Regions from separate parts of the Homo sapiens genome. Here regions 1, 2, 3, 4, 6 and 7 are each linked to region 5. Evidence: fine-mapped expression QTL. A gene starts in region 5. Each other region holds a variant in brackets. All regions are shown on one strand. Distances are between the middles of the regions. Region 1 overlaps WNK1 (WNK lysine deficient protein kinase 1). Region 2 holds the start of LOC124902855 (a long non-coding RNA gene). Region 3 overlaps LINC02455 (long intergenic non-protein coding RNA 2455). Region 4 overlaps LINC02455 (long intergenic non-protein coding RNA 2455). Region 5 holds the start of WNK1 (WNK lysine deficient protein kinase 1). Region 6 overlaps WNK1 (WNK lysine deficient protein kinase 1). Region 7 overlaps NINJ2 (ninjurin 2).

The links.
Region 1: its variant is fine-mapped to the expression of WNK1 in whole blood (INTERVAL, PIP 0.94).
Region 2: its variant is fine-mapped to the expression of WNK1 in whole blood (TOPMed, PIP above 0.99).
Region 3: its variant is fine-mapped to the expression of WNK1 in whole blood (TOPMed, PIP above 0.99).
Region 4: its variant is fine-mapped to the expression of WNK1 in whole blood (TOPMed, PIP above 0.99).
Region 6: its variant is fine-mapped to the expression of WNK1 in monocytes (Quach 2016, PIP 0.95).
Region 7: its variant is fine-mapped to the expression of WNK1 in whole blood (TOPMed, PIP above 0.99).

Annotation. Positions count from the first base shown.
Region 1 is chr12:876,509-880,574 of GRCh38, forward strand. It overlaps WNK1 (WNK lysine deficient protein kinase 1), which reads left to right. Exons shown (of 28, transcript NM_018979.4): 10 at 1,704-1,853; 11 at 3,065-3,523. Among named protein-coding and RNA genes, the nearest start is that of RAD52, 71 kb to the right of the region's middle. The variant G/A (reference allele first, on the strand shown) is at 1,808.
Region 2 is chr12:929,383-933,448 of GRCh38, forward strand. It overlaps RAD52 (RAD52 DNA repair protein), which reads right to left. Exons shown (of 12, transcript NM_134424.4): 2 at 3,593-3,694; 3 at 1,838-1,939; 4 at 669-762; 5 at 437-504. The coding sequence starts at 3,676. It overlaps LOC124902855 (a long non-coding RNA gene), which reads left to right and starts at 1,931. Exons shown (of 2, transcript XR_007063155.1): 1 at 1,931-3,423; 2 at 3,459-4,066. The variant G/A (reference allele first, on the strand shown) is at 1,749.
Region 3 is chr12:695,655-699,720 of GRCh38, forward strand. The region is part of intron 1 of LINC02455 (long intergenic non-protein coding RNA 2455); the gene reads right to left. All of the region lies in intron 1 of LOC101929432 (a long non-coding RNA gene), which reads left to right. Among named protein-coding and RNA genes, the nearest start is that of LINC02455, 19 kb to the right of the region's middle. The variant C/T (reference allele first, on the strand shown) is at 2,512.
Region 4 is chr12:683,966-688,031 of GRCh38, forward strand. It overlaps LINC02455 (long intergenic non-protein coding RNA 2455), which reads right to left. Exons shown (of 4, transcript NR_187480.1): 2 at 30-248. Among named protein-coding and RNA genes, the nearest start is that of NINJ2, 23 kb to the left of the region's middle. RefSeq lists enhancers at 1,360-1,479, 1,750-1,839. The variant G/A (reference allele first, on the strand shown) is at 2,126.
Region 5 is chr12:750,558-754,623 of GRCh38, forward strand. It overlaps WNK1 (WNK lysine deficient protein kinase 1), which reads left to right and starts at 2,022. Exons shown (of 28, transcript NM_018979.4): 1 at 2,022-3,767. The coding sequence starts at 3,009. RefSeq lists enhancers at 1,078-1,177, 1,228-1,277, 2,035-2,753, 2,754-3,472 and silencers at 1,918-2,067, 2,148-2,527, 2,538-2,917.
Region 6 is chr12:779,133-783,198 of GRCh38, forward strand. All of the region lies in intron 1 of WNK1 (WNK lysine deficient protein kinase 1), which reads left to right. It also overlaps the pseudogene RNU4ATAC16P. Among named protein-coding and RNA genes, the nearest start is that of WNK1, 29 kb to the left of the region's middle. The variant TAACAACAAC/T (reference allele first, on the strand shown) is at 1,968.
Region 7 is chr12:574,330-578,395 of GRCh38, forward strand. The region is part of intron 1 of NINJ2 (ninjurin 2); the gene reads right to left. Among named protein-coding and RNA genes, the nearest start is that of NINJ2-AS1, 55 kb to the right of the region's middle. RefSeq lists an enhancer at 1,766-2,267 and a silencer at 1,796-2,065. The variant A/G (reference allele first, on the strand shown) is at 1,923.

The sequences.
Region 1 (4,066 bases), 130 kb after region 5:
ACATAAATATAAGAAGAGCAAAAATATTATTTGTAGATTATCACCTAACAAAATCTAAGACACTTATCAAGGTGGCAAGATACATAATAAATGTACAAATAAATAGCTTATCTTTATACCAGCAGTAACCAATTAGTCGTATGGGTATACCAGCACATACGTAAAAGGCTGTTGGTTGCAGCATTATTTTAAGTAGCAAAAATGAAACAACCAAAGTGTTTATCATTAGGAGACTGATGCCATTTAGAAATTAAAGTAGTATGCTATAGAACACTATGTATAGGAAAGGCATGTTTTTGTTTTGTTTATTTTAACAAAAAAAGAAAACTATGTGAAAATGGCCACTTACGCATAGAAAAAAATCCATGAAGGTTATGCACCAAACGACTAATAGTGGTTACCTCTGGAGAATAGGATTAGGGGTATTTTCATTAACTTTATAATATGATGTACTAGTTAAAATTTTTATTACAAGCAGATGTTGTATTAAAGAAAAAATATAAATTAGGTATTAGAAGATCTTGAAAGTCAGCCCTAAACTTCATTTTTTTTTTTTTTTTTTTTTTTTTTTGGAGACAGAGTTTCGATCTTGTTGCCCATGCTGGAGTGCAATGGTGCAATCTCGGCTCACTGCAACCTCCGCCTCCCAGGTTCAAGCAATTTTCCTGCCTCAGCCTCCTGAGTAGCTGGGATTATAGATATGTGCCACCACGCCCGGCTAATTTTTTGCAATTTTAGTAGCGATGGGGTTTCTCCATGTTGGTCAGGCTGGTCTTGAACTCTGGACCGCAGGTGATCTGCCCACCTCAGCCTCCCAAAGTGCTGGGATTACAGGCGTGAGCCACCGCGCCCAGCCTCAAGTTTTTATTTGTTAGACAGAAGGGGCAGTACTCTAGGGGTCATAGTCCTGTTTTGTTTGGTTTTGTTTGCTTGATTTATTACAGAATTTAGTATTCGAGTACAGTTATGTTCCATGCATTAAATTAGGTGTATAATTACGCACCATGCATTAAATTATACTTGAGTCCCTAGTACATAGTAGATTCCCAGGTGTCATTCCCTTTGCCCCACTTTGAGTTAAAAAATAATGTCCTTGTTTCAAAAAGAGAAACTTCATTTTTTTAATAAAATAAGCAATCTAAGGCATTAACAGCTAGTAAATATTAAAGCTAAAATTTGAAAATGTCTGTTATTCCAAATCCAGTGCTTTCCTCCCTATTTTGTAGCTATAATCAAAGCTATTCTTCAAGCATATTAATTATACAGTTGATAAAATAGGGTAAGGAAAAAAGATTAAAGGAAGCTATTGGATCTATCTGATATAGGTGCCAAAGAGAGAGCTGATGCCAAGAGATAGGGAAAAGGGAATGGCAGGGATGGGATGGGGAAAGGAACTGTCTGGATATGTTATGTAAATGTCTTTGTAAAGACCTATTGTTGGGGTGAGGGAGATAATTGGGTGAAGAGCCAATGGTAACTTGAGTATTAAAAGATTGGTTAATTTTTCCTGGTGGCACCATCACAAAGAACATCAGAGGGAAAACAAATATATAATGGAAATTGATGAATTTGGGTTTGTGCATGTCTTGATTACTAAAATCATCATTATTTACAGACACTGAAGGCTTTAGGTAAACATGCTTCCTTAGAAACATGCTGTTATTGATTTGAAATAAAACTGAATCATTGTATTTTATTCTTAGCAGCAGGGAATACAGCAGACAGCCCCTCCTCAACAGACAGTGCAGTATTCACTTTCACAGACATCAACCTCCAGTGAGGCCACTACTGCACAGCCAGTGAGTCA[G/A]CCTCAAGCTCCACAAGTCTTGCCTCAAGTATCAGCTGGAAAACAGGTAAACTTTTTTTTTTTTTTTAAACAGGTAAACTCTTAATTTCTGAAAGGGTGCTAAAAGGGATTTCCATGTAACTTGTCCTTTCATGTGGATAGACTTCTACCTTTTCTTCTAAGGGTAACCAACCCTTGAAGTAGGTTAATCTCATTGCAGAAATGAAGTGAAGATCACCTCATTGGTGCATATGCATTATTTAATGTAAATGGGTACGTTACTGACAGCAGTGACAATCCAAAGTTTCACTTCTAGTCTTACCAGTCCAAAATTGATGTAACAGGTATTAGAAATAACAGGTTAAATAAAGGTGCTCTGGTAACTGAACCTATGACATTCCCTAGAATTGTGTCAGCTATGTCTGATATTCTAGGTTTGAAACTATGCTTTATTTTCATGTAGATTTCTGCACTGTTTACTGTGTGGAATGTTTTTTTTTCTTAAGTAGTCCTCCTAATCACTTGAGAAGTACCCTGTAGAAGGTATGCTTTTCTGAATGACCTTTTTTCAACTTTATTTTTGAGTACTGTTGTGCATGTATGTGCACAGTGTATTGTTACCCTAATATTTCATCACATCTGAGATGCTATCAACTTTAAAATGTACCATATTTTATGTACCACATTATCAGTTATAAAGTAGATCCCAATTTCTCACATGTTAAAATGATCAGGTAGTGGAGAGGGATGATTGCATCCTAGAATGAGTGAAATATGTGAATTATACCAATTTTTATTGAGCCATGTTGGACTTAAGAATTTTAGAAATAATACGAATGAAATCTTAATTCCACTGGGAAGGAATTCATTTGAATTTCAGTAACTACTGTAACAGCAGTCGTAACTTTAGTGATAGCATTATGGTATATAAAATATATTCCAATAAAGCTGTTAAAAAAAAAAGCCAACCCCTTGTCTATGGAAGGGTCCTCTTCTATTGCCAAATGCTGAAGCATTAGCAAATATTTCTATGACAAAAGGTGTAGAACAGTAATAGTCTATTTAGCCTCTTTCTCTCCTGCTCTCCTTTCCATATTCTTATGTGGCATATTAACTTAACACTAATGTATGCAGGGTTTTGTTGGTTTGGTGTTTTTTTTTTTGTTTGTTTTTTCCTTCTTTTTGGCTAATACATAAATCTTGCTTTTGGCAGCCTTGCTTTTTTTTTTTTTTTTTTTTTTTTAAGCCTGTCTGTTTTGTTTTTCTTTACCTTCCCAGCTTCCAGTTTCCCAGCCAGTACCAACTATCCAAGGCGAACCTCAGATCCCAGTTGCGACACAACCCTCGGTTGTTCCAGTCCACTCTGGTGCTCATTTCCTTCCAGTGGGACAGCCGCTCCCTACTCCCTTGCTCCCTCAGTACCCTGTCTCTCAGATTCCCATATCAACTCCTCATGTGTCTACGGCTCAGACAGGTTTCTCATCCCTTCCCATCACAATGGCAGCTGGCATTACTCAGCCTCTGCTCACGTTGGCTTCATCTGCTACAACAGCTGCGATCCCGGGGGTATCAACTGTGGTTCCTAGTCAGCTTCCAACCCTTCTGCAGCCTGTGACTCAGCTGCCAAGTCAGGTTCACCCACAGCTCCTACAACCAGCAGTTCAGTCCATGGGAATACCAGCTAACCTTGGACAAGCTGCTGAGGTTCCACTTTCCTCTGGAGATGTTCTGTACCAGGTATTGTGTTAGTTAGCAAAAGAGGGCACCACAGAGTTTGATCCTAGTAGATCATCAGGAACATGGAAATCTAATAGTTGAGTGTCAGAATAACTAGCAATAACATGTCAACTAGAGAAGCAAAATAGTAAAATTCTGAGAAAGGATTGGATAATGATGTTCAGTGATTCCTGATCCATTTTTCTCAAGACACTTCTTCAGAGAAAAATGGTTCTCTCAGTATTCACTGTAAGCTGATTGAATGCTAGATGTGGTTAATAGTACACCTGGCAACTTTTACATATATGGGTAGAATAAATAGAATAGCCAACATGGTATCAACAAAAAGCTTCGGGGTTTAGACTGGGAAAATTAGCATTTCATGATATGACTGTTATGTGGAAGAATTTTTGCATTTTTCCATTTAAGATTGGCTAGGAAGAAATTGTGTTCCTCCTATTTAAATCATCTCTAGGTGAAGATAACCGACAATAAAGTAGTATTGTAGAGTCCTGTCTCTTCTGTTGGAACCAGTCTACTACTTCATTTCAAGAATGTGGTCTT
Region 2 (4,066 bases), 180 kb after region 5:
ACTTAACACCTTAAATAACTGTGACTTGAAGTGAAACAACTTATTAACAAAACATATTTTTGTTTTCATCAATGTTATAACAAAAGGACCTGCTTTGCCTAAAGTTGAGTTTCCAAACACTTATCAGTGATGGTAAAATTATTGTATTTTAAAATGTCAGATTTTACCATATGCCAAAAAATACATCCTTTGCAACAATTTTTATATATGGTGAAAACTTTTAGGTGTCAGCTTGAACATGTGCAAGAGAACAGTTTTTCCATTCTTTTAGGGAGCACATGAGCAAGAGTATTTGAATTCCACCACTCTAGGGAACGCTGGCTGAGACACAACTCTGGAGCCTGGGTCCCCGTCCAGCTACCTACTTCCCTACCTGCTCACCTTCTCCTACCACCCACTGATCCTTCCGGGCAGCAGGTCTACTCCATCCCCTCACCTTCAGCTGGACCCTCACAAATGCACAGACTCCCACGTAGAACTTGCCATTGTTGAGGTCAACAAAATCTAGGAGTGGGAAAGAGAGCAAGTTGAAGAGGACACTGACCGCTGGGCCACAACCATTCCTCCTGCTGGCAGCTGAGTCCACCTACCTTACCTCCTCACCCACAGCAGACTTTCAGCAGGAGCTGGACAGTGCAGAAGTCCCCACTGCTGGAGAGCATACTCACCCACATTCTGCTGCGTGATGGAGTGTGCCCAGCCATTGTAACCAAACATCTCATTGGCCAGATTAATTACCCGATGACCCTCAATGTAGCACACCTAGAAAAACAAATGTTTTTAAGGAAAAGCTGTGTTAATTCCTTACCACACTTAAATGTGAATCAAAATTGACATAATTTATTCCTCATCTACTTTTTTCGATAAACTGTCCTTAAACATTCTTCTCGGGAGGCTGAGGTGGGAGGATCACTTGAGCCCAGGAGCTCAAGGCTGCAGTAAGCTAGGATCGTGCCACTGCACTCCAGCCTAAGTGACAGAGTGAGAACCAGTCTGTTAAAAAAAATTTTTTTTTCAAGAAAATTCTCAATGAATTTATTTCAAAAATCTTCTAGATGGAGCCCGCGAGAACGAATGGTCTGTTGGGAGGAGGAACTCACCCAGCAGTTGCTAAAATTCAGTTTGCAAAAAGTACAAATCTGTTTGACATATTTTATGGAAGACCAAAAATATACACAGAAGTTAAAATTAGAAGCAAATGATATGCAATTATTATGTGTCAATCATAAGTTCTTTAAAAAGTGTTTAATTAAAAAAAAAAAGCAAATGGCAAAAGGAACATTTTTTTTTTAATGGTGTAAAGGCTGGGCATGGTGGCCCACACCTGTAATCCCAGCACTTTGGGAGGCCGAGGTGGGAGGATCACTTGAGCCCAGCAGTTCGAGATCAGCCTGGGCAACATGGCGAGATGTCGTCTCTACAGAACATTAAAAAATTAACCAGGTGTGGTGGCGTGTGCCTGTAGTCCCAGCTAGTCAGGAAGCTGAGGCAGGAGGATCGCTTGAGCCTGGGAGGTGGAGGCTGCAGTGAGCTGAGATGACACCACTGGTCGGACTCCAGCCTAGGTGACAGAGCAAGACCCTGTCTTTAAAAATAAAAAAAAAAAAAGATGATGTAAAAATCTTAAGACGGCGGTTATGCGAGTGTCAAGACCATGCCCAGGCCCCTTCGGATGAGAATGAAGTCTGGAACCCATCCCCTCCCAGGGGCACTGGGAGACCTCCAGGAACAGTTAACAGCAGACTTCC[G/A]AATCCCTGAGGACCCAGAGAGGGAACTGGCAAGACCATCGGAGTCTGCGGTATGGATGCCTGCTTTCCAGGCACATGAATTCTCCTACCTTCTGGCCTCCGCCAGCCATGCGGCTACTTATGTATTCTGGGCCCAGCCTCTGCCTCAGGGCCTTCTGGATGGCCTGGTACTCTTCTGCTGTGTACTGGCACTGCAACCCCAAAAAAGAAAATTAAATTCACACTTCCACCATTCCTCACATCATTGAGTCTCCATCCTTTATGGAGACTTTATACTCTTAAAAAGACCCCCCAGAACCTTTGTTTATGTGGGTTCTATGTATCCTATTAGGAATCAAAACTGAGAAACTTTTAAGGCATGCATGCCATTAGGCATCATAGCAGTGACATCACCACATATCATGCACTCTCTGAAAACTCTACCATTCACTCATGAGACAATGAGTGTGAAAGAGGCAAATAGTATTATTATGAAGATAATTTTGACCTTCTGGACTCTGAAAGATCTTCAGAAACCCCAGGGTTTTTGAGAACTGCATTTTGAGAACTGCTGCCTTAGCTGCTGCTACCATCCTTATAAATGTTTCTGAAGCTTAGGAAGCTAAAATGTTCTGCCTCCAGATCTGTAAATGACGTCAGCACAGGAAGCAAGTACGGAAAGAGCACGGGGGTAGGAAGCCTTGCTTCCATTTGTCCTTTCCAGAGATTGACGCCTTCTCCAATACAACAATTTCCCATCCTGCACAAACAGAAACACACTACTGCTTGCTGATTTGGGTTTTGTCCCCCTTGCCCTGCTCAGATGAGATGAATACTCACAACTCTCTGCTAAAGACAAAGATGGAGTTTGGGTGGACAAAGCAAGAAACTCTTTTCTGTGCACACAATGTCCCTACAAGGAATAGGACCCCCAGTAACTTTCCATGCCTCCAAGAAAGACAACTGGAGCCAGGCGCGGTGGCTCATGCCTGTAATTCCAGCATTTAGGAGGCCGAGGCAGGCAGATCACGAGGTCAGGAGTTCAAGACTACCCTGGCCAACATGGTGAAACCACATCTCTACTAAAAATACAAAAAAATTAAGCCCGGGCGTGGTGGCTCACGCCTGTAATCCAAACACTTTGGGAGGCCGAGGCAGGCGGATCACCTGAGGTCAGGAGTTCGAGACCAGCCTGGCCAACATGGTTAAACCCCATCTCTACTAAAAATATAAAAATTAGCTGGCCATGGTGGTGCATGCCTGTTATCCCAGCTACTTGGGAGGCTGAGGCAGGAGAATTGCTTGAATCCAGAGGGTGGAAGTTGCAGTGAGCTGAGATCGCACCACTGCACTGCAGCCTGGGTGACAAAGCAAGACTCAGTCTCGAAAAAAAAAAGAAATAGAACTGGGTGGCATGCACACAGGGGCAATAGGAAATAGGGAGATTTTCACAGTTTCATTTTGAATTTGATGTCATACAAATATGTTATCTATCCCCCCCCACAAAAAATTTAAAATCTAAATCTAATCCCCAGTACTATCAGTCTTTTGATAGCTAACATTCCAAAATGCCCTCCAGAGTTCACAAGACTCCCAAAAAATGCATCTAAAGGAAAAACCAATAACAAATAGCTCACACATGTACTATGTAAACGTACTAGGTACTGCCCCCGCACGCACCGCGTCAACGTACTAGGTACTGCTCACACACGTACTAGGTAAACGTACTAGGTACTGCTCACACACGTACTAGGTAAACGTACTAGGTACTGCTCACACATGTACTACGATGCTCTACAAACTGCCTTGCCCTAACTTTACTCACTTCACCTCATTCTTTCCCGGCATGAAGGAACCACAGTTACCTGTCCAAAGCATAACACTGAGCCGCCGCCAGCAGCAGGATGGCTGTCACGTCCTCCAAGAATTGCTTCCTCAGTCCCAGACATCTTGATTCTGGTTGACCTCTATATAAATAAAAAGCGGAAAAAAAAAACAACCCTCAAAGAATGTTTAAAGTAAAAGGCAAGAGCCTCTACTGAAAAATCACATAAAGAATCCTTATGCGGCCAGGCACAGTGGCTCATGCCTGTAATCCCAGCACTTTGGGAGGCCGAGGTGGGTGGATCACAAGGTCAGGAGATGGAGACCATCCTGGCTAACATGGTGAAACCCCCTCTCTACTAAAAATCCAAAAAAATTAGCTGGGCATGGTGGCAGGCGCCTGTAATCCCAGCTACTCGGGAGGCTGAGGCAAAGAATTGCTTGAACCCAGGAGGCGGAGGTTGCAGTGATCTGAGATCACACCCTGCACTCCAGCCTGGGCGACAGAGCGAGAC
Region 3 (4,066 bases), 55 kb before region 5:
CAGTTGACTGAAAAAGAATTCCCAGAAACGGGATCCCAGGGAGAAAAAGCAGAAAGGCCCTTTTTGTCAATAAAAATTATGCCCTGAATATCAGCTTTTAATTAAGCTGATTTCTAACCATAGAGCTCTTTAAAAAAATCTTTTCAAATCTTTTATCAGATTTCAGCCAGGACAAGTAGAAAGTAGGTCTCCCATTCTGTTTGGTTCTAAAATAGCTTTTTTTTTTTTTTCTGATCTATCAAAGGACCTCCGTTTTGGCTATTGTAATTTAGGGTCATCTGAAGTCCTGTGGGCCCATTTGTTCAAATGTCTGCAAGACAAAGCTCCGTAAGTGTTATACAGAATATCAGCCGATGTTTCCAAGGGAGGCTGCGTCGTTAGAGAGTCTTCAGACTTGAATAGGTTTGTTACCCATAATTTAGAGGCCTGAATCACTCACAGCCAAGTTCTGGGCTGTGTTTTGGGTCAAAATGTGCTGCTTGTGAGTGTGACTCCTTAGTGTGTCACTACTGAGTTGTGTCCACGTTTTTATGTGTCTCAGAAACATTGATCCCCAGAGGGTCACAAAGTCCTCACGAGTGCTAAGTGGCCAGCCTTTATGTGCACTTGTTGGCAGAGTGAGAGAGATTACGGATGTTCTCCTGAGAGAGGAAACCTTTTAAGGCACGAAAGTCCCAATACCCCCAGCAAGTCGCTAATTGTTTAGGGTGCCCTAACGGGCTGGAGGGAGCGAGTGCCTTTTATCTTTGGAGTGAAGAATCCACTCTCATATATTAGAAAAAGGGAATCTAAGAGAGGTTGGTCATGCATAAAAGTTTGATTTCCAAAATGAAAGGTCATGATGTAACAATGTCTTGGCCGAAAATGGAAGCAAACTGCTAACTCCAGACCTGTGAGTTGCCAGAAAAATATCCTGATCTCCTGACTTAAACAGGAAAGTCAGAGACAGAACCCTCATTCAGAGAGAGTCAAAGAGAAACCGCTCAAAGTCTAGACCTCCACCAAAGAAACGGGAGTCTGGATTCAGGAGAACTCACCCGCAACACCAATGAGACTTCTGAAGATGGAGAACGCAATGGGTTTGTGCTAGTACCAACCACTGCCTTCAGAGAAAAACAATGGGTGGTTGCTGTGGGGGATTCACTCTGAATCCTGCTGACTTACGCCAGCTATATCGACCTAAAGGAAAATACATTCTGAGTGGAGAGTTTACCTGGGCCAAGTTTGAGGACTGCAACCCAGAAGCATAGATTCAAGTTGCCCTGAATCTATCCTCCCAGTAGCAGCAGTTGTGTTTTTTTTTTAATCTAGTTATTTATTTATTGACTGGGTTATGAGACTGGCTAAGTTTTGTATTTTTGATAGAGATGGGGCTTTCACCATGTCACCCAGGCTGGTCTCAAACTCCTAGGCTCAAGTGGTCCACCCCCCTCAGCCTCCCAAAGTGCTGGGAATACAGGTGGGAGTCACTGCACCTGCCTACAAGTGGGTTTTTCTTTTTTCTTTTCTTTTTCTGGAACTTTATTTCTTCTAACAGGTACAAGTGGTAGTAGCCTTTTCCTTCTTTTAAAGGAAAAGAAAAAGGCAGTTCCTAAACTATTTACCAAGAATTTACATAAAAATAACCTAAGATATTGATTGGCTATACATTGTTATTTGTATCACACATCCCAGGAACATGAAGATAATGGGTGAGGCAGCTAGTCAGGAAACTATAGGGAAGAAAATAAAGAACAAAATCCCTTTAAACAATTGCATCCGGGGCATGGAGGTGGGGTTTGGGGGATATAGGTGGTTGTGGGGAGGGTGACTTAGAGACCCCTCTGAGCTATTTTTCTTTTTTCAAGTAGGAATAGAAGTGTGATGCTGGAGAAGGAAACCTGGACCAAAATGTGGTGTGGGTAACTTGTTTCTCTTTTCTGCGTCTCAACTTCCTCCAGCTCTATTTTTCAGAGAAGGAAGTTGCATGGGAAAGGAAATGGCAATCAGGTTTGTCTAGCTGAAGCAGTCTAAGCTGAAGTATAAAAAAAATTAAGGTGGGCTGGAGCGAGAGGAAGGCTGGGGAAAGCTGGTGAGGTATCTTGAAACCTGTGTTAAGGAATTTCCCTGGCTTAGAACAGGGCAATTGGTTTTTACCATTAAAATCCCTTTGGTTTTTACCATTAAAATTCCAAAGTTACAGCCCTCTCTTCCTCTTTGTAAATGTTGGTTAGCCACTACTGGACATTACCAATCCTCAGGGGAAACTAGTTGAGATTAGAAGAAACAATTGTAAAAAGCAAAGTAGAGGTTCCTCTTCAAAGACTTTCCTCCCCATCTAATTAGGAATAAATAGTAACTTCTCTTAGAAGCAAAATTTATTCAAAGACCTGTGTTAATATTCTTAAATATCTCTAGCCATAATAAAGAAATCAATGTACTTTATGTTCTTAGTTCCCACAATTTAGCCTAAATATTTGCCCTGCCATGCTTCTACTGGTCCAAGCAAGCATTAGGTCATAGCCTGTTCTT[C/T]TTCCTTATTTGAAGGTGTTTTTACCTTTCTCAGCATTCCACAAGTTACTTCCTCCTTCCTTTGTCCTCTTCTGCCTTTGCCTCTCTTAAAAAGTTCTAAGTTGCTAGCCAACTGGGACAAATACAGAATGTGAGGTCCTGTTCCAGCCAATGGAAACCGACACAGCAGTAGGGTGGACGCATCAGATTATAAATGACCCTGTCTCCTTTGTTCAGTGTACTCTCGTGGCAAAACTGCTGGCGAGTGTACCCTTTCTGCAGAAAGTGAAAATGGCCTTGCTGAGAAAATTAAATTTATGTTAAGTGCTATTTCTTTACAGCACCAGGGAACAAGCATTTCTAACACAACTTTACACACTGGTAGTAATAGCAGGTCTGCAAGGTTGACTCCAGCAGAGAAAGTCAGGAAGACAGTTAGTGCATGCAGCCAAAGAACTACAAACATAGGGAGGAGCCGGAATAGTCAATTTCAAAGAAAAGATCCTTCCAGTACACAGAATTACAATCTCTGAACACAACTCCCTGGCCTCAATTTTGATTTTAATTGACTGCATGGCTCAAGATAAAGGGCTGGTAAATTGAGACCTGAATTCTCCTTCAGCAACAACCAGGGAGAGCTGGAGGAATGGGTGGTAGTATACTGTAATCACCCATTTTTCAAATTAAGTCTTTAAGGCCCTAGTAAGCCAACTGAAAGGAATTCTTAGTTCCTCAGGCTAAAAGAGCACAGAAGTTGCTATGTGGGATGGGCACCTAGTGCCTCACGCCTATAATCCCAGCACTTTGGGAGGCTAAGGAGGGAGGATCACTTGAGGCCAGGAGTTTAAGACCAGCCTGGGCTGGTGAGACTGTCTCTACAAAAAATAAAAAAATTAGCCAGGCATGGTGGCACATGTCTGTAGTCCCAGATACTTGGGAGGCTGAGAAGGCAGGATTGCTTGAGCCTAGGAGTTCGAGGCTACAGTGAGCTATGATTGTACCACTGCACTTCAGCCTGGGTGACAGAGCAAGACCCTGTCTCAAATAAATAAATAAATAAATAAAATTAGCCAGGTGTGGTGACACATGTCTGTAGTCCTAGCTACGTGGGAGGCTCAGGCAGGAAGACTGCTGGAGCCCAGGAATTTGAGGCTGCAGTGAGCTCTGGTTATGGGACTGCACTCCAGCCTGGGTGACAGAGTGAGGCCCCATTTCGATAATTTAAACAATGATTTTTTAAAAAAATGTTGCTATGTGGGCTGGGAGTGGTGGCTCACACCTGTAATCCTAGCACTTTGGGAGGCCAAGGTGGGTGGATCACCTGAGGTCAAGAGTTCAAGACCAGCCTGACCAACATGGTGAAACTCCGTCTCTACTAAAAATATAAAAATTAGCTGGGCATGGAGGTGGGCGCCTGTAATCCCAGCTGCTCAGGAGGCTGAGGCAGAAGAATCACTTGAATCCAGGAGGCAGAGGCTGCAGTGAGCCGAGATCACGCTACTGCGCTCCAGCCTGGGTGACACAGTGAGACTCCGTCTCAAAAAAAAAAAAAAAAAAAAGTTGCTATGTGAAGGTA
Region 4 (4,066 bases), 67 kb before region 5:
GAGAAATCCTACAGAAAAAAAAAACCCACCTATTTTAACTTTGTTTCATCCGGCGTTCACAAATGCATCTGTGCATGGATCACTTTTTTGCTCACTGCCATCACCACCTTCCACGTCAACACGGGGAGTGCTGCGCCAAGGCAGCGTCTTGGCCTGTGAATCACAAGCCACGGACTCTTTTGTGTGTTTCTGCCACAGCATTGCTGAGTAACCTGGTCAGCCCTCTGTTGGGGTCTTGATTTCTCCACCTGAAAAACGAGGACGATAACACTTGTCCACACTTAAGAGAGATGAGCTAGATAATGTCCATGAGGGCTTTGACCCTTTAAAGCAGGTTCTATAGAAACAATGTTATTATCTCAACCACACAAGCACGATGGGATAACAAGTCACATCATTAGATTCTATTATACACACCCGGACCCCGCAGAGGCACCACACTTAGCTTTCTGTCCTGGTCCCTGAGGGCTTTACATACATTTCATATGCTCCAGTAAGCAAACCCATTCCATGCTGGTTCCTGCTGCAAACAGACCAAAAAGGAAAGAAAGGAAATACAGAGAAGCAGACAAAGTGCAGAAATAGAGAATGCAGGAACAGCAATGGTTAACAGTGACTGAGTACTTACTAGGTGTTACCCACGTGCAAGGCAGTTGAAACACAGTGTTTAAATCATCCCATCTAGGGCTGGGTGCAGTGGCTTACGTCTGTGATTCCAGCACTTGGAAGGCCGAGGCAGGAGGATCATTTGAGCCCAGAAGTTTGAGACCAGCCTGAGCAACACAGTGAGACCCACATCTACACACACAGACACGCAACACACACACAGACACACACACACAAACTGACCCATCTAGCCCTCACCAAAATCCTAAGGAAGACACACTTATTATGACAATATTGGAGGTTAGAGAGTGTGGCTTGCCCAAGGACATACAGGTATTACCTGAACAAGCCTGCCTGATTCCAAAGCCTACATGACATTGTTTCCTAAGGTAGTACACATAAAATAATCTTAGGTGGTAAAAAAAAAATTATTTTAATAGTTTTGCATTTTAATGTATATTTGAAAAAACATCATATGTATTGCAAAGCCATGGTTCCATTAAAAAATATCATAGGTGAAGATAAGAAAATAAGAAAGTCTAATTAAGAAAATAATAGTACAACTGATATGTGGACACGTCAAAAATCATGAAGGTGGTGTGCTAGTGAATGAAGCTGGGGAATCATTGCAATACATCCTTCTACCTTCCAAAAACCTTCTACCTCCCAAAAAAGAGAAGGTAAGCCAAAGCCCAGTTAGATTCACCTTAACCAGGCTTTTTGTTTGTTTTATTTTGTTTTGTTTTGACTCTCACTCTGTCACCCAGGCTGGAGTGCAGTGGCGTGATCATAGCTCATTGCAGCCTTGAACTCCTGGGCTCAAGAGATCCTCCTGCCTCAGCCTCCTGAGTAGCTGGGATTACAGGCGTGTACCACCATGCCTGGCAGACTCACATCAACAAGCCTTTGAGCTTGTTTCTGACTCCTCTAGGCTCAAGTGCAAGAGAGGAAATGAAGTTGAGTGAAGGCTGAAGGTTGGCAACGGTTGCTATGTTTATCTGCGGTGGGGAGGTGGGGGCAGAGAGGCATGTCTGTGATTGTGAGATCTGATTCACAGAAAATCACAGACTGACAAGCACCATCTCCTACAGAGAAGGAAACAATATCTTTAAATTCTTGGCAACCCTCTCCCTGACCTTCCAACTGTGCACAGCTGCCTGGTTCATCTTTCAGCTCTGTAGAGAAGGGGAAGGTCTTAGTTAAGACTTCTTGGTTGCAAAAGCAACCCACTCAACTAGTTCAAGTCAAGCAGAAAAAAGAAAGAAGGGTTTTTGTAGATACTGGGTTTTGTACAGACCACCAAAAGATGGGAGCTGGAGTGGGAGTCAGGACCCATGACTGCTCTTTGTTTTTTGGGGTCTCTCATCTCTGCTTCTCTGAGGTTCTCCTTCATTCTCTCTTTCTGAGCTTCACCAGGCATGACCATCTGGCCCTAGCCTTACATCACTTCTTTTTTTTTTTTTTTTTTTTTTTTGAGACAGAGTCTTTCTCTGTCACCCAGTCTGGAGTGCAGTGGTGC[G/A]ATCTTGGCTCACTGCAAGCTCCGCCTCCCGGGTTCACGCCATTCTCCTGCCTCAGCCTCCTGAGTAGCTGGGACTACAGGCACCCACCACCACGCCCGGCTAATTTTTGTATTTTTAGTAGAGATGGGGTTTCACTGTGTTAGCCAGGATGGTCTCGATCTCCTGACGTCGTGATCTGCCCGCCTCGGCCTCCCAAAGTGCTGGGATTACAGGTGTGAGCCACCATGCCCGGCCATCACTTCACAATTCTAGCCCCTACCGGACAAGGCCCAGTGCTTCCAGGCCTCAATTCTAAGCTGCCATTAGCAAGTCAGATTGGCCCAGCTAGAGTCAGGAGTTCACTGCTGCACAGTGCATTATAGCTAGGGTAGGTCACGGTGTAAGCAATTAACAGGTCCTTCTGAAATCCAGCATCCTCACACTCAATGGTTCCTATGATTTCTAATGGGCAAGAGCTGGGTCAACTTCCCTGATACTGTGGCCACTATAGTCCCAGCTTTCCTGCTCTTTCAGTACGGCAAGTTGTATTTTGACATTTGAAATAAAGCATTGGGTTTCCTGCATCAGTAACAATGCTTCTTTCATTCTACCAACTTTGGTCACCTTGAGTCTTGAAGACGATTGATACTTACAGGGCGATAAACATGTAATCATTTGGCATAGAGAAAAAGGGTTAAGAAGCTGTGCTATCAGGAATGGTTATAGAGTACCCACTGGCACCATGTAGGGGGGCTCTGGGAACAGCTGAAGTGATGATGTTGATTATGATGCTAAAGATGATGGTAACAGCAATAAAAGAATTGAGAAGGATGGGTCTCCTGAAAAAACATAAGAATACAGATAGAGAAAAGGAGCACAAATAATAGATCTCCACGTAGTGAAAATAATCTTGAGCTAAGGACTCAAAGACTTGGGTTCTAGACTTGTCTTTGTCCCTTAACTACGTGAGTTAAGATCATTCACGTAGTGATCTTAGACTAATCACTTGGCTAGTTGTGGTCCATATCTGTAAAAATCGAAATGACTTTCTAAGCCAGAAATTTCTGGGATCCTACGGTCTATAATTCTATGCCTGGAGGATAAAGTGGATCTTGGAATAAATGAGATGATTAAAGCCAGGCGAGGATTAGCAAGGTCTGGTTTCTTAGGAGATGAATCTTCAAGAGAGATTCAAAAGGTGTGAGGACAGCCTTTGGTGTGCAAACCCAAAAGTATCTGAGAAAATCTCATTCAAGCCAGTCGCAGTGGCTCAGGCCTGTAATCCCAGCACTTTGGGAGGCCGAGGTGGGTGGATCATGAGGTCAGGAGTTCGAGACCAGCCTGACCAACATGGTGAAACTATACTAAAAATACAAAAATTAGCCGGGCATGGTGGTGCGCACCTGTAATCCCAGCTACTCAGGAGGCTGAGGCAGGAAAACTGCTTGAACCCAGGAGGCGGAGGTTGCAGTGAGCCGAGATCGCACCACTGCACTCCAGCCTGGGCAACAGAGTGAGACTCAGTCTCAAAAAAAAAAAAAAAAGAAAGAAAATCTCATTCAATTTAAAAAGTATATTTTGCCAAGGTTAAGAATGCACCCATGACACAGTCTCACCCCAGGTGGTTAGGATACAGCTTGCTTTTATACATTTTAGGGAGATATGAGACCTCAATCAATACATGTATGATTTACATCGGTTTGATCTGGAAGGGTGGGACATCTCAAAACAGGGGGCTTCCAGGTTATAGGTAGATTTTAACATTTTCTGATTGGCAATTGGTTGAAGAGTTATTATCAATAGAAAGAAATGTCTAGGTTACAATAAGGGGTTGTGGAGACCAAGACTTTATCGTCCAAGCAGCAGGCTTCAGAGAGAATAGATTACAAATGTTTCTTTTTAGACTAACAAGACTTAAGATCTGTGTTAATGTTAATGCTGGTCAGCTTTTCCTGAATTCC
Region 5 (4,066 bases):
ACTTGTGTCCAATGCAGTGTGGCCAAAGTTTCAGGGCTCAGTAAACAGGAACAGGCAATAATAAAATCCTTTAACAACCACTCACACAAAAATATCCTAATTTTTTCATGGTGCCAAAAGGGAACATTGTGATTTACTGATCTTCTTTTAACTTGCCAATTTGTAATTAGCTGCCTTATGTTTAAAATCAGACTATTTTTCCTAGTGAAGCAACAATTGGGTAAGTTTTATTTTACTCAAAAGTACAATAAAAATGTATTTTACAGCCATTTCTTCCCTTGCTTACATTAGGTTTACGGTTAGAAAAACACTCTTAATTCCATTTGCCATAATGAGATTATTTACCATTACCAATAGCAAACGAATGAAAGATACATTTTCTAAAGCAATGGAACACTAATATTTTAGTACTCTAGTTGTCCCTGCTGAATCGGCATTTTAAAATGTTCGTAACCTGTCAGCTTCATGAAACCTAACGATCATTGGTTTAAAACATTTTTGTAAACTTGAAAGTGTAGCTTGTGATAAACAACAAAAAAAGAAAGAAAAGAAAAATAGGGTTAAGTATTTTACGTATCAGATGAATTAACATGAACTGCAGGGCAAGACTTCTGTAGGTGGAGCTCATCCGATAACTGTGCTAAGGAACCTCCTGCCGAGTTCCTTGCTAGCTGCTCGCTCGCAGCGTGGTCCTCGGCCCCGACGCGCGCTTTCGAGCTTGTTCCGCAGCGGGCGCTGAAGAGAGGCGGCCGCGTCCGGACGCTCTGATGCGGTTGCGTACGTTTTCAGCGCTTCCCGCTCTCCACCGGTTGGACTGAGGCTTTTAAACTGCAGTCTGCTCCCGAGTCCGGCTTCCTACTCGGTCTGGTGCCCCCTGGTGCTCGTCCCCTCCACATCTTGAGTAGTTGCGAAGAGCACAGGGGTCCAGGCAGACAAGGATGCTTTCAAGAAAAACATTCCATGGCGGCAAGCCGCATGGATCCACATTTCCCGGGCCCAGAGCCTTTGTAGACATTGCATGTGGACATTCAGGAGCTCTAGAGAAAGAGGGGGTGTTGTTTCACGAAGCCACCAGCAGAAGAAAGGTGGAAAATAAGTTTCAACCAACTACAAAGGCAGAAGTCAGCCCAGCCCCCCAAGTGTGGTCAAAGACCCATAGATCCGTAGACCTTATCTTTTCTTGAATCCACCGCTCCCCCAACCCCCCTTTTATTATTTTTCAGACAAAGCAAAGATAGAGTTCACTAGGATCCCCGATTTCAGTAAGGCAGCCCTTTTTTGAGAGCCAGAATATCCGTCTCGGCCGGGAGCTGAGAATGTGGCCTTAATTGATGAGGGGAGGAGGATGGAAGGTAATCCTCCGTGTCTCCTCCTCCAATCCGTTTAATCAATATTAATTTCATGCACAATCTTCACAAAGTTTCTTTTCCCCTCCTCCGACTCAGAGCTCAGGCTCCGGTTATCCTGCTTTGCCCTTCCCTTCCACCCTCACAGCCCTGCAGTCACTCAACACTACTGAGGCTCTCTCCATTAAAGATGAACAACAGATCATTTTTCATTGCATGGCAACCCTAAGAGCTCTCTAGCTTAGCAGAGCATGATGGGAGTCTTTCCATCCCCCCCCCCACCCCCCGCCCGCTCGTTCCTCTTCTTTTTTTTTTTTTTTTCCTTCCTTTCCTTCTTCCACAATTAATCCCTAAATAATGATTTTCCTAAGCTCGCGCGGACTTCGGGATGGGGTTGAGCGACCCGTGATGACGCTCCCATCAGCCTTTCAGAAGGGACGGTTTCCAAAGAAAACTACAACTCCCACGAGGCATTAGGCTACAGCAACCGCAAGGCATCACGGAAGTCGTAGGCACTTTTCTTCTAGGTCCCGTTCATCCCCGCCAACCCGTAAACTATAAGTCCCAGGGTGCCTCGGGGCTAGCACGCCTGCGCAAAAGCCCCGGAGCGAGTTGGGGGGTGGGGCTGCTCCGGGCGGCGGGGGGCGGGATCCGAGCGGGCTGTGTGGAGGCTTCAGACTCCCGGCGCCATTTAGCGCGGAGAGTTTCCCGGGTGGACGCGGCTCCTCTCTCGGCCACTCCGCACCCCCATCTTCGGTGACAGAAGGCGCCTGGTGGGGGTGGCTGCTCTTTTCTCTCCCTGTTCCCCCTCACCCAGTCCTCTAGGTCTCCTCTCCTCTTGCCTCAGAGAAGCAGCGGAGCTCGGGCCCCGCGGTGAGCGGCCCTCCCCTCCCCGCCGTTCCCTCCTCCGTCAGCCCCCGGCACCGGCCCGGGAGGAGACGGGTTTGCCAGGCCTGGGGCGGGCGGGGAGGCCTCGGGGAAGGGGGGGCCCGCTCCTCAGGCGCCGAGGCTCCGAGGCTCCGGCCCTTCGCCTCTGGGCGATGGGCGACCTGTGAGGCCGGTCCCCATCGCTGGGGGCGCGTGTGGGAGGAGGCGGCCGCCCGAGTGACCGGGAGCCGGGCCGCGGCCTTCCCTCGCCCGCCTCGGCCCCTCCCACTCCTCTGCCCCGGGGCCGCCACCGCCCGGGCGTCGGACCTGGTCCCGTGCTCGCGGTGCCGCCGCCCTCTGGGCCTAGCCCGCCCAGCTCGGCGAGCGGCGGCAGTGGGAGCCGCGTCCGCCGCATCCGCCTCGACTCGGTGCCGGCCCCTGGCCCTCCCCTCATGACTGCGGCGCCTCTGCTGCCACCGCCCGCCCGGCCGCCGCTCGCCGCAGGATGGATGCGGACCGTGCGGCGCTAACCCCCGTGGCTCAGCTCCCGAATCGCCCGCCTTCGAGCCCTCCTCGTGAGCCGCAGCAGCCTCGGTGCCAGCCCCCGCCGCAGCTGGGCCCAGCGGTCCGCCTGTCCCTCGTTGCGGCTTGTCGGTGCTGAGTGAGGCGTCGTCCGGGTCGGCGCGAACCCGCCCGGCCGCGGTTCCCTGCAGACCTCTGCGCGGGCGGCTCGGCCCTTCACGCCCTTTTCGTTCACGAATCCGAGCCCGCTCGCCTCTCTCCAGCGAACCGACCATGTCTGGCGGCGCCGCAGAGAAGCAGAGCAGCACTCCCGGTTCCCTGTTCCTCTCGCCGCCGGCTCCTGCCCCCAAGAATGGCTCCAGCTCCGATTCCTCCGTGGGGGAGAAACTGGGAGCCGCGGCCGCCGACGCTGTGACCGGCAGGACCGAGGAGTACAGGCGCCGCCGCCACACTATGGACAAGGACAGCCGTGGGGCGGCCGCGACCACTACCACCACTGAGCACCGCTTCTTCCGCCGGAGCGTCATCTGTGACTCCAATGCCACTGCACTGGAGCTTCCCGGCCTTCCTCTTTCCCTGCCCCAGCCCAGCATCCCCGCGGCTGTCCCGCAGAGTGCTCCACCGGAGCCCCACCGGGAAGAGACCGTGACCGCCACCGCCACTTCCCAGGTAGCCCAGCAGCCTCCAGCCGCTGCCGCCCCTGGGGAACAGGCCGTCGCGGGCCCTGCCCCCTCGACTGTCCCCAGCAGTACCAGCAAAGACCGCCCAGTGTCCCAGCCTAGCCTTGTGGGGAGCAAAGAGGAGCCGCCGCCGGCGAGAAGTGGCAGCGGCGGCGGCAGCGCCAAGGAGCCACAGGAGGAACGGAGCCAGCAGCAGGATGATATCGAAGAGCTGGAGACCAAGGCCGTGGGAATGTCTAACGATGGCCGCTTTCTCAAGTTTGACATCGAAATCGGCAGAGGCTCCTTTAAGACGGTCTACAAAGGTCTGGACACTGAAACCACCGTGGAAGTCGCCTGGTGTGAACTGCAGGTAAAGCCCCACCTACTTTATTTGACGGTCCTTTGGATCCCAAATTTGGCTCGGCGAAGCCAGTTGATCGAGTTCACCCTTCACTTGGCATTCTCTGTTGGACTCCGAGTGGGACGGGGAGGCCAACTTTTGAAAGGGGCTGAAATTAGGAGAATGTGGAGCATGTGCCTAGGTGTTGGGATAGGATAAGAATTATTGGTAGCCAGAGGGATTTGCTACCGGGCAGCGGTGGTGAAGGTCATCTTAGTACAAACGAATTGTCTCCTGGTTTAGAGTCTGGCAGGAAACTTGGAATGAGT
Region 6 (4,066 bases), 29 kb after region 5:
TTTTTCTAAATCATATTGTCTGCTTTTCTCCAAAACAGTTGAATAATGTACTCATTTTCATAAAATTTTAGAAAAATTAGTGAGTAAATTTTTGGCAGTTATTTTATTTGACATGTGAGTGGTATTTGCCTTCAGATTTCGAATTCCCTGTTGGGAAAGTAATATGGTTATGTTGCTGTGACTATAATATTAAAATGCACAGACACACTATAAATTCCCTTTCCCTTAATTTTCTTTGCCTTTCTTTTCTTTCTTTTCTTTTCTGTTTTTTTTTTTTCTTTTTTTTTTTTGAGACATAGTTTCACTTTGTAGCCCGGGCTGGAGTGCAGTGGCACGATCTGGGCTCACTGCAACCTCTGCCTCCTGAGTTCAAGTGATTCTCCTGTCTCAGCCTCCTGAGTAGCTGGAATTACAGGTGCGCGCCGCACCTGGCTAATCTTTGTATTTTTAGTAGAGACAGGGTTTCGCCATGTTGGCCAGGCTGGTCTTGAATTCTTGACCTCAAGTGATCCACCTGCCTCACCCTCCCAAAGTGCTGGGATTACAGGCGTGAGCCACCGCGCCTGGCTCCTTTCCCTTAATTTTCTGAAAGAAAAATTCACATACAGCCGTGTGAATTGACTGGACTGTGAAATTAAAATAATGGATTTTTTTGGTCTTTATACTGCAAGTTTGAGAAATAAAGAACAAAGCATTTTCTCTGTGGATGCGAAGAACTCTGTACTTGACTCAGCTTCCTTTTTCTCTTGCCTGCATTTTTTGTTTACTTCACTGGCTTGATTAGTCATAATAAGGCTCAGTACCTCTGCCATTCCCAATGTTAAGCAATTTTTTAAAATTTGGAATTTTGTGGATAATCATTAACAGAGTTGCTTAATGGGTAATGTTGTTTTCTTTATGGAAATAATTTGAGGCACCTTTTCTGGGGTTCTTGGCAAGAAATATGAGTTTATTATGGATATTTAGGAAAGAGGATGTAGAAATAAACCTTTGTTTGTAGTATGAAGCTGTGATAATCTGCCCCATCTTTGTCTAATTCCGTTTTAACTTCTGTCCTTAACATGTTTCTCTTCTTAATCAGTTGTCAGTGAAGATTTATTTATCAGGAGATGGGAATGGAGTATTTTGGATATACTTCAAGTTTTGAATGATAACCGTTAAAATACATACAATGTTTTAATAGTGAGATACACTGATCACAAAAATATGGTCTGATTTAACTTTATTTTGTGGTACTTTTCTTCTAAGTTTAGACAGATGATAGAAATTCACAAAAATTTCAGTCATAGTTATGGCCACAGTTAGGCATTCCCAAAGGAAGTGTGTTGCATTCCTAAGTGTAGTGTGTTGCATGCACTACTGAGCATAATGGGAAAAGAAAAGTGCTATAAAAACCTAAGTACCAAGTAACTAGCTAGAAAAAGCTTTTAATGGGAGAGCTGGCATGGTCATTAATCTGGTAGAATAGTATTTGAGGAAACAGTTGCATGTGTTAAGCTGCAGTTTCTTTTGGTTATTGAAAACCAAATAGGAAATTCTGAATTAATACTTACATGCTGAAGTATCTTTGTGGAGCTTATTTTGAGCGTTAGAGTGGGAGACTTAGTTCTAATGCAAACTATAGAAGAATGACCTTGGGTAAGTTTGTTGTCTAATTAGTAAACTGAGTGGTAGAGTTGGATAATCCTGTCAGCTTTAGGCCCATGCCTTAAATATGCTTCTTATCCTCTCACAGTCAAAAAGGATTTTTACCTTGGTACAGTCTGATTCCTGCAACACCTCTCTAGTTATTGAATGTATAGTAGTTTGCTATAGACAGACTACTTTGCAGTGGCTATCAAACCTTTCTGAGACTCATTCTAAGAAATACATTTACATTGTGACTTAGTATATGCACACATAAAAAGAAGAAAGTTTCACAAAATAGTTTCCTTACTAGCAATGAGCTGTTTTTTGTTTTATTTCGT[TAACAACAAC/T]AACAACAACAACAAAAACTGCTAACCATCTTTTTCTTGGGGTTGCACTACTGTCCAATGAGCACATAGTGAGGGCAGTACTGCTAACGCCTACATAACATGCCTGCATCATCTAGAGCTTTGCTTTACCTTGGTACAATTTTTGGAAGAATGAAAAACTGCTTTTCCACAGGGGGAAAATACTGTTTACTGCCCATCTTTGAAAAACATTTTACTTAGAGCATAAACTTGAAGCTAGATCCTTTTAACCACTTAATTAAATCATACAGTAAGTTGTTGATAGCTATTTGCCACAAAATGAAAATATAGTGGCTATATGAATTTTAGCTGCTGTCACTGTTCATTAATCATAACATAAGCTCTGAACACAGTGTTTCTTCTTAGAAAGGTACAAATGATTATGATTTTGTATAACAACTGAAGTTAGGTGTGTGTGAAGTTTTATAATTGCTGGTCTTCATTAGATAAATTAAATTATAATTAAATGATCTGTTTTATTTTTGCTTTTTATTTGGTCTCTTATTAATAGGCACAATACTGGCATTAGCTATAACACAAACCAATGGCACTAAAAATCTTCAGAACCTTTTTGGATTTGAGTTTTTGAAAGATATTTTGTGGAGACTACAGATTTAATTTTAAAGTATAAATATGCTCTTATTTTAAATAAATGGGGTTTATACTTTGTGTTCTAATGATTGAGATAACTTTTTTTTTTGAGAACTTAAATTAAAATTCCCAGTCTTCTCTAGTTCTGTCAGATTTCTTTGTTCCCCCTCCCAGTGGTTGAGTTCTTATGGGATTTGTGGCTTATTTTTAAAATCCAATGATTAAAATGAAGTTTTCTGGCAATATTAATATTTGTGTGAATCTGGATATCCTCCTCACTTAACTTCTAAGGCTTTTTCTTCATCTGAAAATGACAATTTTGTATACTTGGCTGGATTATTTTAAGTAACAAGTAACAAACACTGTGGTAGACTAACATTTGAGTTTGAAGTTTCATATAATTTTAAATCATTGTCATCGACTGACTTTGGAAAGTAACTTCTGAGATTTTTGGTCTGAAGTGACCCTGAAAGTTTATGACCTAATTATCATTTTATTAGGTCTGAATGTGAATGTTGCACTTTGAGAGGAAATAGTATAGAAGTAGTTACATTGCTGGGTGACTGATCTAGCAAGTCCCTAACAGTGCCATTAAGCTGTCCTGTAGTACATCTTATTTAGTTCTCTCAATAACTACATAGTATGTTGTCAGTCCTATTTTATAGATGAGAAAACCAAGGGAACAATTTGATAGAATAATGTTTCCAAAATCAGAGATCTAATCTTAGAAGGCTTAGTTGAATAACATTGGATATATTACTCTGCGGTTCCTAAGTCTATGAATTAATGGGAATTTTGAAATCTAATTGAAATCCAAGGAGAAAGTGATAGAAATAAAATTGTAGTGAGCGATGTCGGCTCACTGCAACCTCCACCTCCCAGGTTTAAGCGATTCTCCTGCCTTGGCCTTCCGAGCAGCTAGGATTACAGGCATGCACCACCACGCCCAGCTAATTTTTATATTTTTATAGAGACGGGGTTTTACCATGTTGGCCAGGCTGATCTCGAACTCCTGACCTGAAGTGATCCACCTGCCTCAGCCTCCCAAAGTGCTGGGATTACAGACATGAGCCACTGCGCCCAACCTAGTTTAAATTTTCTAGTAGCCACATTTAAAAAAAAACAGGTGGAATTAATTTCATGAATATGTTTCATATAACCCAATATATATCCAAACATAGTTTCTTTTTTTTTTTCTGAGACAGGGTCTTGCCCTGTCACCCAGGCTGGAGTGCAGTGAGTGGTGCACGATTATGGCTCACTGCAGCTTCGAACTCCTGGGCTTAAGCGATCCTCCAGCCTTAGCTTTCCAAGTAGCTGGGACTACAAGCACGTGCCACCACACCCTGCTAATGTTTAAATTTTTTTGTAGAGACGGGGGTAGGGTGGGTCTCACTATGTTACCCACACTGGTCTCGAACTCCTGGCCTCAAGTGAACCTCCTGCCTCAGCCTCCCAAAGTGCTGAGATTATAAGTGTGA
Region 7 (4,066 bases), 180 kb before region 5:
AATAATAATAATAACAATAATAAATTTGTAACAAAAGCAAATATGCACTCTGCTATGGTCTGAATGTGCCCCCTAAAGTTTATGGGTTGGAAACTTAATCCCTGCTGTAATAGTGTTGAGAAGTGGGAACTTTAAGAGGCAATTGGGTCACGAGGGCTCTGCCCTCATTTATGCCATTATCATGGCAGTGGGTCAGGTTATCTCAGGATTAAAAAAAAAAAAAAGGTGAGCTTGGCTCCCTTCCTCTCTCTTGGGCTTGCAAGCTCTCTGGCCCTGCCACCTTCTACCAGGGAAGGATGTGGCATGAAGGCCCTCACCAGATGCCAGTGCAATGTTCTTGGACTTGCCAGTCTCCAGAACCATGAGCCAAATACACTTCTATTGTTTATAAATCACCCAGTCTCAGTTATTCTGTTATAGCAACACAAAACAGACCAAGACATACCCCCAGAAGGCCAGTGGTTAAGATAAACATGTTAAAACAAAAGTGAATTTATGACTTCATCTCACCCAGACCCTAGCTGGTCCTCCTCTGAAGTGGGAATAATATCTGCCCTGTCTAGCACAAAGTGCTGTTAGAAAGATCAATAGGATCATGTGGGTGAATGTGCTTTGAAAGCTGTGAAGTATTAAACAAATATGAGATGAGAGGGAAATCTATCCCACAGAGGATTATACTCCCACGTGTGGGCCTAGAGGCATTTCAAATACTGTGTTGTGACTCAGGGCCCGTCCCAGCCCCAGTTTTGAAGTAGGCACCATTTATGGTCCTAACAACTTCCATGGTGTTTGAAATGCCTCCTGTACCCATTGGGCAGCCTCTCTCCTCGCTCCTGCTGGCTCTCGCCTTCGAGCCGCCTGCAGGAAGGGAAACACTCACACAAGCCCACCTGCATTGGGTCTCCAGGGTCATTGTTACTCAAGCGTAGTCCTCTCTCCTGGGGCCCCCACCCACCTCTCTAGCCTGGTCCCCAGCTCCTCCTCCCACCCCTGAAGAGCGAACCCTGTGCCCTGTGCCAGGCTCTGTGATGCTCAGACGTGCAGGGCCACACCAGATTACTCACTGTTCCCTGAACACACCCCACCCTTCCCAGCTGCTCCTGCTCTGCTCCAGGACTACAGGCCTTTCTTTCTTCACCATGCTCCCCCCAGGGAGAGCCTCCCCTCCTTTCTAGACCCTGTCCCCAAATGCACTCCACCAAGGCCCTGTTTGAAAGAAGGTCGCCTGCTCCCTGGCCTGTGCTGGCCTTGGGCGTTGTTGAGTCCTCCTGAGACGGCTCCTTCTGCTGCCCACTTTAGCACACGGACCCCATCTTCCACAGGCCTGAGTCTCCATGGAGCCTAGCTCAGCACCTTGCCCACATGAGGTACACAATGAATGATGATCGCATTGAATTTTTATGAGACAGCTTTTTCAAAAAAGGCAAAAGTAAGGCTCTTTAAGGGTGGGGCTTCAGGCACAGTGGCTTCTGGGTGGGGGAGAGGAGTTTGGGGAGTGAATCTTTGCTCTTAAACACCCCCACTGCAGGGAGAGCCCTTTTTCCCCTAGATCCTGCCTTTTCTCAGCAGTCCTGAGGGAGCCTCAGGGAATGAATGACTGGGGCTGGAAGCTGCAGCTGGTCTTCAGGCCAAAAGCTGTAAAAGCCCAGACCCCTGAGGCCTTCTGTCTGGGGCAGGCCGCATGCAGGCTCCTGACTGCAGCCAAGAGCAGTGATCTCGCCCTTAAAAATCAACAGTCTCTAATCCACGTCGGGGTGGGGTTTCTTTTGCGTGTTATTCCAGCAATAATACGTAACTGGTCCAGAAACCGCCTCTGAGCCCTGGGCACAGTCTCACTGAGAGTTCCAGCCCTTGCCCCGAGCTGCAAACTGGGGCCTAAAGCTGCAGCACCGAGAGGCCACGTGGGGCGAGGCCTCCCCGGA[A/G]GGCCTGCGGCGCCGCCGTTGTCCACCAGGGGGCGCCAGGAAACGGCGCGGCGAGGCCCCAGCTCAACCCGCCCGCGCGGGCACACCCGGGCTTTGACCCCTTTGTGATCGAGGACACGGACGGGTTTCTCTCCAACAAAAGGGGGCCATAAATTACAAACGGAAGCAGAGTGTGTAGGGAAGAACAGGAAAGCACGTGCGTTGAAACCGGAACTCGGGCCTGCTTGCTTGCTTATTTATTTTAGTTATTACTGTTTTCTTGGGGCAGGCCCTTGCTCTGTCGCCCAGGCTGCGGGGTGGTGGCCCCGTCATAGCTCACTGCAGCCTCAACCTCGGGGCTCAAGCGACCCTCCTGCTTCAGTCTCCCAAAGTGCCGGGGCTGCAGGCGCGAGCCGCCACCCCGGCCTCCGTGCTCTTTCTCAGGGAGCATTTTCCACCTCCCCTGCAAGAGGCCGTTTTGCCAGTGGCTTTCAGAAAAGACTGTTGTCATCTCGGGGTTCAGAGTTAATCGTGGATTTACCTACCACACAGAAATTTCCAAAGAATCGATCTGCTCCCTCTCAATATCCACCCTAAACAAGAGCACTTTCCCAATCAGCGCCTTGTCCTGGGGCTTCCAGACCCATCTGGCCTTTTGCTCTTTGCTCTATGCCCACTTGAGCTGTGAGGTTCTCAGAGACATTCCCCAAAGCCCTCCCAGCCGATCTCTGCTGACTTCAATCCTACTCATCCCTCAGGGGCTAACAAAATTGTTAAAATTTAAACAGTAATAATTAAATAATGATATTGCTGTATGTCAGGCATGACTCCACAAAGCAGGTATTAATACAGATGGTCCCCAGCTTTCGCACCATCGTAAGTGATACACTTTACAAACTGTCCTTCGAGTAGCCATACAACCACTCTCTTTTTCACTTTCAGTACATTATTCAATAAATTACACAAGATATTCAATAGTCTCTTATAAAGTAGGCTTTGTGTTAGATGATGTTGCCCAGCAGTAGGCTGGTGTAAGTGGGCTGAGCACGCTGAAGTTAAGCTAGGCTAAACTATGAAGTTCAGTAGGCTAAGTGTATTAAATGCATTTTGACTTACAATATTTTCAACTTACTATGGGTTTATCAGAATGTAGCTCTATCATAAGTTGAGAAGCAACACTAGTCTCATATATATATATACATATATATATATAAATATTTTGGCACGATCTTGGCTCACTGCAACCTCCACCTCCTGGATTCAAGCAATTCTCCTGCCTCAGCCTCCCAAGTAACTGGGATGTAGTCCCATTCTACAAGTGAAGAAGTTGAGGCTCAAAGAGGTCAAATGCCCAAAGTCACCAGATACTGAGGGATGGCCCCAGTGTCTAAATCCTAAGCCTGCGTTTTTCTCCTATATGCCAGTGGTTCTCCATGTGTGCTCCTTGAAGTAGCAGCAGCAACATCACCTGAAAACTCACTAGAAATGAAAAATTTTTAAATTTTTGTAGAGATGGGGTCTCACCATGTCGGCCAGGCTAAGTCTCAAACTCCTGAGTTCAAGCGATTCTCCCACCTCAGCCTCCCAAACTGTTGGGATTACAGGCGTGAGCCACTGCACCAGGCCCCGAGATCACCCTTTTATTTTTATTTTTTTTTAAGACAGGATCTCCCTCTGTCACCCTAAGGGAGGAGACCATCCCTCACATTGTCTTATGCCCAATTTCTGCCTCCAAATAAAGAAGAAGTAAAAACTAAAAGGCAGAAATGAAATCCACGAGCAGACAGCCCGGCCCCATACCCTGGGCCTGGTAGTTAAAGATCGACCCCTGACGTAATCAGTTATTTGTATAAGAAAAGCACTGTGAAGATCCCTGTCCTGTTCTGTTCCGTTCTAATTACCGGTGCATGCAGCCCCCGGTCACGTACCCCCTGATTACTCAATCAATCATGACCCTCTCACGCGGACCCCCTTAAAAGTTGTGAGCCCTTAAAAGGGACAGGAATTGCTCACTCGGGGAGCTCGGTTGTTGGAGATGTGAATCTTGCCAAAGCTCCTGGCCGAATAAAGCCCTTCTTTCTTTAACTCGGTGCCTGAGGGGTGTTGTCTGCGGCTTGCCCTGCTACAACCCAGGCTGGAGTGCAGTGGTGCAATCATGGCTCACT